2 separate regions of the Homo sapiens genome follow, and region 2 is linked to region 1. Evidence: fine-mapped expression QTL. Tissue or cell type: cerebellar hemisphere. Region 1 holds a variant in brackets; the other region holds the start of a gene. All regions are shown on one strand. Distances are between the middles of the regions.

Region 1 (5,268 bases):
AATTAGAAAAAAAACAATTCTAAAATTTATATGGAACCAAAAAAGAGCCCACATAGCCAAAGCAAGATTAAACAAAAAGAACAAATCTGGAGGCATCACACTACCTGATTTCAAACAATACTATAAGGCTATAGTCACCAAAACAGCATGGTACTGGTATAAAAATAGGCACATAGATTCATGGAACAGAATAGATAACCCAGAAATAAACCCAAATATTTACAGCCAACTCATCTTTGACAAAGCAAACAAAAACATAAAGTGGGGAAAGGATACCCTTTTCAACAAATGGTGCCTGTGACAATTGGCTAGCCACATGTAGAAGAATGAAACTGGATCCTCATCTCTCACCTTATGCAAAAATCAACTCTAGATGGATTAAGGACTTAAACCTAAGTCCTGAAACTATAAAAATTCTAGAACATAACATTGGAAAAACCCTCTAGACATTGGCTTATGCAAGGATTTCATGAACAAAAACCCAAAACCAAATGCAATAAAAACAAAGATAAATAGCTGGGATCTGATTAAACTAAAGAGCTTTTGCAAAGCAAAAGGAACAGCAGAGTAAATAGACAATCCATAGAGTGGGAGAAAATCTTTACAACCTATACATCTGACAAAGGACTAATATCCAGAATCTACAACGAACTCTAACCAGTAAGAAACTAACAAATCTAATCAGTAAGAAACGAAGAAACTAACCAACGAATCTAATCAGTAAGAAAACAACAAACAATCCTATCGACAAGGGGGCTAAGGACATGAATAGACAATTCTCAAAGGAAGACATACAAATGGTCAACAAGCATATTAAAAAATGCTCAACATCACTAATGATCAAGGAAATACAAATCAAAACTTCAATGTGATACCACCTCACTCCTGCAAGAATGGCCATAATTAAAAAATCAAAAAACCGTAGATGTTGGCATGGATGTGGTAAACAAGAAACTCTTCTACACTGCTAGTGGGAATGTAAACTAGTACAGCCACTATGGAAAACAGTGTGGCGATCCCTTAAAGAACTAAAAGTAGAACTACGATTTGATCCAGCAATCCCACTGCTGGGTATCTACCCAAAGGAAAAGAAGTCATTACTCAAAAAAGATACTTGCACACGCATGTTTATAGCAGCACAATTTACAATTGCAAAATCATGGAACCAAGCCAAATGCCCATCAATCAATGAGTGGTTAAAGATACTGTGATATATATAGTGTGTACATATGTATCGCAGTATATATATATCATAGTATAGAGAGAGTGTATATATATACCGCAGAGTATATATATATATATACCACAGAGTATATATATAGTGTGTATATATATATACTGCACAGCATATATATATACACTATATATAAACATTGTGTATATATACACACACAATGGAATACTACACAACCATAAAAAGGAATGAATTAACAGCATTTGCAGTGACCTGAATGAGATTAGAGACTATTATTCTAAGTGATGCAACTCAGAATTGGAAAGCCAAACATCGTATGTTCTCACTGACATGTGGGAGCTAAGCTGTGAGGATGCAAAGGCATAAGAATAATACAATGGACTTTGGGGACTTGGGAAGAGTAGAAGGAGGGCAAGGGATAAAAGACTACAAATCTGGTGCAGTGTATACTGCTCAGGTCATGGGTGCACCAAAATCTCACAAATCACCATTAAAGAACTTGCTCATGTAACCAGATACCACCTGTACCCCAATAACTTATGGAAAAATAAAATATTTTTTAAATTAAATTAAAAAATAAAAAACAAAATAAATAATAAAATCCAAAAAAGAGTACATTGTGACTGGGATGGAGAGTATGTGTGTTGCAGTGGGATATTGAAAGAAGAGAGAGAAAGCTGTTGAAAAAATACAAACCAAATCTGGAGAATTAGCACACATATTAGCACTAGAAACAATGATGATTTCATCAGGAGTTTTCCCTGAGTTAGAATTCAACACCTAATCAAAG[A/C]CATTCTGGTCAGAACTAAAGAGGGCAAACATCTTTTTCTCAAATTATAAATTGTCCTGACTGTGTAGCAAGCACAACTGGGATGCCAATGCAAGGGTTTCCTGCTCTGTCATGTCTAATATCAATAATCAGTTGTTCTCAGTCTCACCTTTTTTTCATTCTCCAAAAAGAGGGTCAATCTTATCACATACCACCTCCATCAAACCCTTGCCATTTTGTTGGCTGAATACCTGCACATCCTGTATGCCTATACTCAAATGGTACCATGCTAGACAGTCAATAGGATGACAGGCACCCACATTTCAAGAAATGTGATTAACTTATGGCAACAACAGTCAGAGATTATTCTTCCCACAAACCACTGAATGAGTCAGTCACACAAAATTTCTATTTGTACCAAGTATGTAATGTCACAAAAATTGCAAGCTTCATAATCTATACTTTTTTGTCAAGAATGGCCCTGTGCATTAGGTGCCTCAAATTCTACAAAATTAACACAAGTCACTGTGAGAGCTCAGTACACTTCTCAAAGCTACTCAGCCAATGCATGACAGATAAAGACTCAAAATCAGGTCTTCTGGCTTCAAGTCTCACAATCTTTTCTATTACTTCATTCCAGGAAATTGAATTCTAGTTACGAAGGCAAAACTAACAGGTAAGAAACAATCAAAAGCCCACCTATGCGATGGGTTTATAAGTTCAGTACAAGGGCTGGATCAGCATGGGCTGGAAGATTTAAAGGAAAATGTTTGGGAATACTTTTTTTCACATGAACTCTACATGGAAGTGTAAAACAAGTATATGAGCTGTTTTGATTGGAGCTAGGGTAGGATCCTCCCAGAGCCCCTTTCCCACTCTATGCAATGAACTCTCCTCAGTAACTTCTCAGCCACTAGGGCTCTACCGAGTAGTTTGGAAGCCAATGGACTAAATCAGTAGTTCTCAAAGTATAGTCCCTGGACTAGCAGTGTCAGCAATACCTGGTAACTTCTTAGAGATGTGAATTCTTTGAATCAGAAATTTTGGAGATGGGGCTTAATAAACTATATTTTAGCATGTTCCCCAGGTGATTCTCAGACTTGTAAAGTTTGAGAAATAGTGAACTACTTCATCTCCATAAAGTAGGAAGGGACGCCACCTGCTTTAAAAGAACATTTGAGATTGGGATTGGAAACTTTGAAGGGGGTAGGGAAGGTCTGGGACTGCCAATAGGAAGCCTTCTCTCAAATAGCAGAGATAGATGATAGGGATGAACGTCCTGACCAAGGCTAGAAGGTGTCAGTATGCACACCCAGTAATCCTGTCTTGCCCCTAAACTTCTCCTGCAATACCTAGAATAGGACAGAAGACAGTGGGCATTTGAGGTCATCTATACCTGGATAGAAAGTTTAAGGAAAAGAGGGGTCTAGGAGGCCACGTTGAAGTGACTGGCCAGGAAGGGACCGAAATCTTGATAGAGGAAATGAATAGGCTCAGTAATGTCAGAGAATGGGAGAAGTGGAATGAGGAGGCTTAACTAAGCCTATGGGGACGGAGAATCTCCATGTCTGAGATCTCAGTGCTGACAAAATCCTAAATTACATCAAAGTCCAAGATCTGGCTCTATTTCATATTTCCCTGTGGAATTTATGTTACTGAATAGACAAACTTGTATAAAAACAATTTCTATATGGTATAAAAACCCAGACAAAAGTTGCAGTTTTCTACATTCAAAAATATTTTTAATGTTTTTATTTTTATCTGTTTGTGAGAATTTGTAAGATTATTTTGTTTTGTTTTTCATATGAGATGGGGTCTCACTGTGTTGCCCAGTCCAGTCTTGAACTCCTGGCCTCAAGTGATCCTCCTGCCTCAGTCTCCCGAGTAGCTGGAATTACAGGTGCATGCCCCCACACTTGGATAATTTCTGTACTTTTTATGTGTTGGTGTAACATTGTCTTCGTCTTTTCTTGGAAAGGGCTATATGTTTATTGTTACTGTCTTTAAAATTGTGGTAAAATATGCATAACATAAAAATTAACTATTTTAACCATTTTTAAGTGTACAGTTCAGGTATACTTTTTTAGTGCCAAAAATGTCATTCTTCTATAAAATAACAAATATACTGTGATGGGGGAGGGGGTTGTTCTTACTAGAAAAATTAAGAAGTCGTTACTTATTTTGAGTCCCTAACTTGGTTTCGAAATATAACACGGGACTAAGAAATTCAGGAATCAAACAACTACTGCCCTAAAGGAGAGTTGAGATTTACAGGGTTAGGATGGTCAGGGGTGGAAAGTGGTAAGAACAAGCCAGTAGAAAGAGGAAGGTGCAGGGCATTTTTAGGAGTGTGCAGACCAGACTTGCTAAAAACAAAGTGCGCTTGAAAAGGAACAGTTAGAATTAAGTTTTGGTCCATTTTAAAATATTTAATACCTAATAATGTTTGGTTCATAGCAGAAACTCAATAAATATTTGTCAATTGAGTGTAGTGAAAGCTTGAGTGAGATTCAGAAGAGCCAGAAAATAAAGTTTAAATTTCATTTTATAGACCAGAGGTTCCCAAGAGATGTACCAAGAATGGGCAGCCAACGTGCTAAGCTATCGATCACCTTTCAAAGGAGTCAGGCAGAAGCCAGGGCATCTGGTCAACTCTAGGCCAGGTATGTTCTAGTATGCTGTACAAGTACAACTGTCTATAGATGTCATTGGTGGAAGACAATAGGAAGCAATGGGGAACCACTAAAGATAATTGAGCAGTGGAGATATAAGATGGCAGCAATATTTCCAGGAAGACTATTGCTGTGGTTTTAATGTTCATGTCCCCTACAAAATTCATATATTGAAATCCTAACCCTCAATGTGATGGTATTAGGAGGTAGAGCCTTTGGGGAGTAATTTGATCATAGGGCAGAGCCCTCATGAATGGGATTAGTGCCCTCATAAAACAGGCCCCAGAGAGGTAATTTGTCCCTTCTACCAAACAGTACACAGTGAGAAGGCACCATCTGTGAGAAAGTAGCCCTTCACCAAACACCACATCTGCTGGCACCTTGATCTTAGACTTGCCTCCAGAAGTCTGAGAAATAAATTTCTGTTGTTTATAAACTACCCAGCTTACAGTATTTTGTTATAGCAGCCCAAACAGACTAAGACATCTATTAACCTCGTGATAAAGCAAGAGCTGGATCCCAGGCTCAAAGCTGGAATCACTGGGACTCCCAAGGTATATATTATAGACATTTGAAAATTACTTCCCCAAATTTACTCTCCCTAACCCCACTTTTTAATAATACCGTAAAAC
Region 2 (5,000 bases), 58 kb before region 1:
AAGGAGTGAAGTCAAGGGGGAATGAATGACCTCACCCAGAAAGGACAAGAACAAAGAGAGGTGAGGAAAGGACAGAGGACGAGGAACAAGGACAGAGCTCTAGAGGGCGCTCAACTTCAAAAGAAAGGTCAGTGAAGGATCCATTGAAATGAAATGCTGTGGCCCTCCCTCTGTGACCTTTTCCCCTAGGCATCTAGTACAGTGCCCGGCACTGGGTAGGTACTCAAACTCCAGTTGAGTAAATAAAAGGAGAGAGAAAAGCAAGGTAGCTTTAAAGTAAGGAAGGAACATGTTTCCAAAAACATAATGATCAATAATATTTAATATTTAATTAGAATTTATTAATATTTGAAATATATAATGTTGCTAGGAGGTTACTATTTTTTAATATCTTTTCATGAGAGATTCTAAAAATAAATACTTGTTTCTAATTCTTACTCATGCTATACAAGAATTTAGATTACACACATTAAGTTTTGTTTTTTATTTTTTATTTATTTATTTTTTTGTGGAGACAGAGTCTCGCTCTGTCACCCAGGCTGGAGTGTAGTGGCCTGATCTCGGCTCACTGCAACCTCCACCACACGGTTCAGGCGATTCTCCTGCCTCAGCCTCCTGAGTAGTTGAGATTACAGGAGCCCACCACCATGCCTGGTAAATTTTTGTATTTTTAGTAGAGAGGGCGTTTCATCATGTTGGCCAGGGTAGTCTCGAACTCCTGACCTCAAGTAATCCACTTGCCTCAGCCTCCCAAAGTGCTGGGATTACAGGCATGAGCCACTGCATCTGGCCAAACATACATTAAGTTTAATTTCAATGACAGCTACAATTTCCAATTTACTTTTAGATGGTTAGTTAACTCTTTTCCTACTAAATGAAAATATTCAATATGCCACATATGAAAAAAATAAAATTCTCCCACCCACAAAAAAATCCTCCAGGGGCACAAAAAAAATCATTTGTTCCCTCATTTTTAAATATTTCTGCATGATGAGACAATATAAAGGCACAATATAGGTTAAAATAAATCACTCTGTGGTTTCTCAAAAAAAGTGAAAACAGATCCACCATATGATCCAGCAATCCCACTTCTGGGAATACATCCAAAAGAAAGGAAATAAGTACCTTGAAGAGATATCTGTACTCCCCTGTTTATTGCAGCACTATTCACAATAGCCAAGATATGGAAGCAATAATATTTCTTCTTGAGGAATAAAATTTTTAAATGTGGTATTTATATACAATGGAATATTATTCAGCCATGAAAAAGAATAAAACTCTATCATTTGCAGCAACATGGATGGAACTGGAGGATATTATGTTAAGCAAAATAAGCCAGGCACAGAAAGACAAATATCACATATCCTCTGTCATATGTGGGAGCTAAAAAAGTTGATCTCATGAAGGTAGAGAGGGAGAATGGTGGTTACCAGAGGTTAGGAAGGGGAAGAGGAAGAAGGGGGTGAAGGTAGGCTGGTTAATGGGTACAAACATACAGTCAGATAGAAGGAACAGGTTCTAGTATTTGATAACACGGTAGTATGACAATAGATAATGATAATTTATTTTTTATTTATAATAAACGATATAGATATAAACGATAAAATAAACGATATAGATAATGATAATTTATTGTATCTCAAAATAGCTAGCAGATTTGGAATGTTCCCAACACAAAGAAATGGTAAATGTTTGAGGTGATATATATGCTAATTACACATCGTATGCATATACCAAAATATCACATGTACCCCATAAATATGTGCAGTTATTACATATCACATAAAAAATAAAAAATACATTTAAAAAAATCAAAACTGAAATCACTCTGAGTTTACATTTTGTAGTAAAGGCCAGCATGGAGCAACAGCTGAGTAAAAGGGGATACTTCATGGGCACAGGTGTTGGTAATCCCACAAGAAAACCTGTGTTTCCTCATTTACTTTCTAACAAGACTTCAGCTTCCAATTAATGTTTTTCACCAGTTTTCTTTTCTTCAAAACAGCTAATTGTTAACCAGGGACCTGAGACACTCTCTTGCCTATAAACAAAACAACTAGAAGGATACCTTTTTCTGTTCAGACAAATTTTAGCACTAAAAACATAACCCTCAAACCTCAGAGGGATAGCTCAGTGCAAACTGTTCATGTCTAAAGCATAAATTGACCATAAACAATATATTGAATAGGTGCACTGTATACAAACCCCGTGAAAAAAATAAAACCAACTACTACCAAAGGAAGTGACAAAGACCTACAAACCAAGAAGAAATGTACCTTTATGCTACTATCATTGGTCATTTAATAGGCATGCTAACAGAGTAAAAAATAGACATTTCAAACAACAAAAAAGAAAATGTCACATCTCCCATTTCCAACTAACTCCCCCAAATTTATTTTTTAGCAAAAGGGGAATAATAAAGAATATTTGTGAAACCTTAGTCACCAAGATGAAAACAGCAAAACAAAATAGGGATCTGGAGAAAAGAAACAGATCGTTCCAACCAGCCCACAGCTAAATTTCCACTTCATCTCACTAACCATTGAATGCTACCCATCTACTCACCTCAACCCAGACTTAATCCTCTCCCCCAAAAGGAAGATTTCTCAGCAGTGCAGGAAGATCAAACAGGTATCCATTCCGTGACCATGCCAAGGAGAAAAGCAAGGCTACTCTGAAAGCTTGAGGGATGATACAGAAAACAAACTGGGTCTCTAGGGGGCATTCTCAAAAACCTGAGATCAACTCCTGGAAAAACACTCTTGACCACTTACCACCACCGGAAGCTGCTAGATGGCAATCAGAATCAGCATCTCATCAGAAGAAGAGGAAGACCTTACAAGAAAGCAGCTTCACTGTCAGTGAGGAATTGAGGGAGAAAAGCACTCCTTGGAAAAATGCTGAAAGCCCTGAAGAGCCTCTCCTCCCCTAGTTGCCTGCTCCTGCTGACAGGACAGAACTGGTTAATCTTGGGGAAACAAAAGGAAACTCCCAAGAGGCTGGCTTCTGAGGATGGCTTCCTCTGTGGGAATCAAGAATTCAGGAGGATGAAAATGAACAATGGAAGGGGACACCGGCTACCAGGCCTACTTACCAAACTTTTACCAGCCCTTGACTGAGGAAGATAAGCAAATCTGTTTGCAGTTCCCACCTGCTTTTGCAGAGATGAAAGAATCAGCAGTGGGTTTTTGTCACTTTTTTTTTTTTTTTTTTTTTTTTTTTACAGGGGAAGTTCAGCTCTCTTATGGATGAAAGCTAAGCATACTCAAGTGACATTTAGTAGGCAAAGCAATGACACTTCTTTCCCAACATCCTTAATTTCAGCACAGAGGATGCAAACATTAACCCTGATGGTACCAAAGAACAAATGCACATAGGAAATGGATTTACATCTTTTAGTTTGGAATTGCTTTTAAGGGGATTCTGGTTGTTAAAGCGGGATTAGATGAAAATAAAATATTTTGGTGCATATCTATTTTTAAAAGGAAAAATATGGCTTCTTTTAAATATGCCTAAAGCCATCTAGGAATTTTCCAGAAGTTGCATCAGATTTGCCAGTTAAGTACTGAAATCAAATAGATTTTAATCATGTCTCTATAACCAGAGCAAGCTAATCCCCTGCGCACCATCAACTCCACTCTCCTGGAACATCCTCACGCTGGGCCCTCAGGTTTTCACAGAAACAAGGGCCTTTTCCTACCAAGGTTCCACAGTAACAAGAAACTACAGATTTCTGGAAATAAGAGAGATGGCTTTCTTTCTTACATGATAAAAGAGGACCAAGAACAGCTTAGAGCAGGAAGCAATCATCTCTTTAAAATATTTAAAATAAAAAACACTTTTAAGTGAAAAACATTTTTAAGTATCACCTCTATACCATTTTTAAACCTATCATATGGGGCAAATATAAGTTTGGTAATTCCCTTTGTTAAAGAAGATATAAGGAAATCAGGGCCTTTTCCTTTTCCTATACTGTTAGTGGGAATATAAATTGGTAAAATATTTTTTAAAGGAAACTGAGTATAGTAGTGCCTATCAAGTATTGAAATGTGTATGTGTTTTTATTTCTTAGGAATTTACCTTATAGAAAACCACACACACGTGCAAACATATCTCTAAATATGTTAATTATAGCACTATGATAGCAACAACAAAAAAACACCTAAAAATGGCTTACATATAAGAGACTGCCTAAATAAGTTAAGGTATATTGATACAAAAGAGTACTATGTAGCCATTCAAAAGAGGGTAGAATTGGAGTAAGGAATCAGGTCATCTGAGTTTAGTTCTGTCTCCACCAGTGACTGGCCAGGTGACTATGCAAGCTCCTACACTTATCTGGGCCATCTGTAAAAAGATGATCATTATAGAACTTACCTCATAGGATTGTTGCAACTAAAACAGTGCCTGGAGCAAAGTAGAGACTCAATAAATTTAGCTATTATAAATAAGAGATAGGCCTCTTCAGACTGACATAGAAAAAGATGTCCAAGATGTACTGTCAAGTGAAAAGATCAAGTTGCAGAAGAATTGTGTATAAGATAATCTCATTTTTAAAAAATATTTTAAATGTGCTCGCTGTTTATTGTCTCCCTCCCACTAAAATAAAAGCTCCTTGAGAGCAGGGACTTTTGTTTACTGTTGAACTCCTGGTGTCCATAATAAGCACTCATGAATAATGAATAATGTCGAATGAATAATGATAACAGCAAGGCTCAGCAAGAAGAATAGGTGAATTCACAGAGACAGAAAGAGTAGAGGCTACCAAGGGCTGCAGGAAGAGAGTATGGGAAGGTATTGTTTAATGGGTACAGGGTTTCAGATTGGGATGATGGAAAAGTCCTGGAGATGGATAATGGTGATAGTTATACAACACTGTGAATGTACTTAAAGCCACTGAACTGTACACTTAAAGGTAGTTAAAATGATAAATGTCATGTTATGTATACCTAGCACAACTTTTTCAAAAATTTCTACTTTTTCTTCATAAGGAGTAGAAA

What was found. PIP is the estimated chance that this variant, and not a neighbour inherited with it, causes the effect.
Region 2: it holds the start of ATP8B4, and the variant in region 1 is fine-mapped to the expression of ATP8B4 in cerebellar hemisphere (GTEx, PIP above 0.99). The same link has a PIP of 0.9 or more in cerebellum.

What each region holds. Positions count from the first base shown.
Region 1 is chr15:50,174,777-50,180,044 of GRCh38, forward strand. It overlaps a transcript of ATP8B4 not described here. Among named protein-coding and RNA genes, the nearest start is that of SLC27A2, 4.8 kb to the right of the region's middle. The variant A/C (reference allele first, on the strand shown) is at 1,986.
Region 2 is chr15:50,116,558-50,121,557 of GRCh38, forward strand. It overlaps ATP8B4 (ATPase phospholipid transporting 8B4 (putative)), which reads right to left and starts at 2,676. Exons shown (of 28, transcript NM_024837.4): 1 at 2,566-2,676. RefSeq lists an enhancer at 1-393.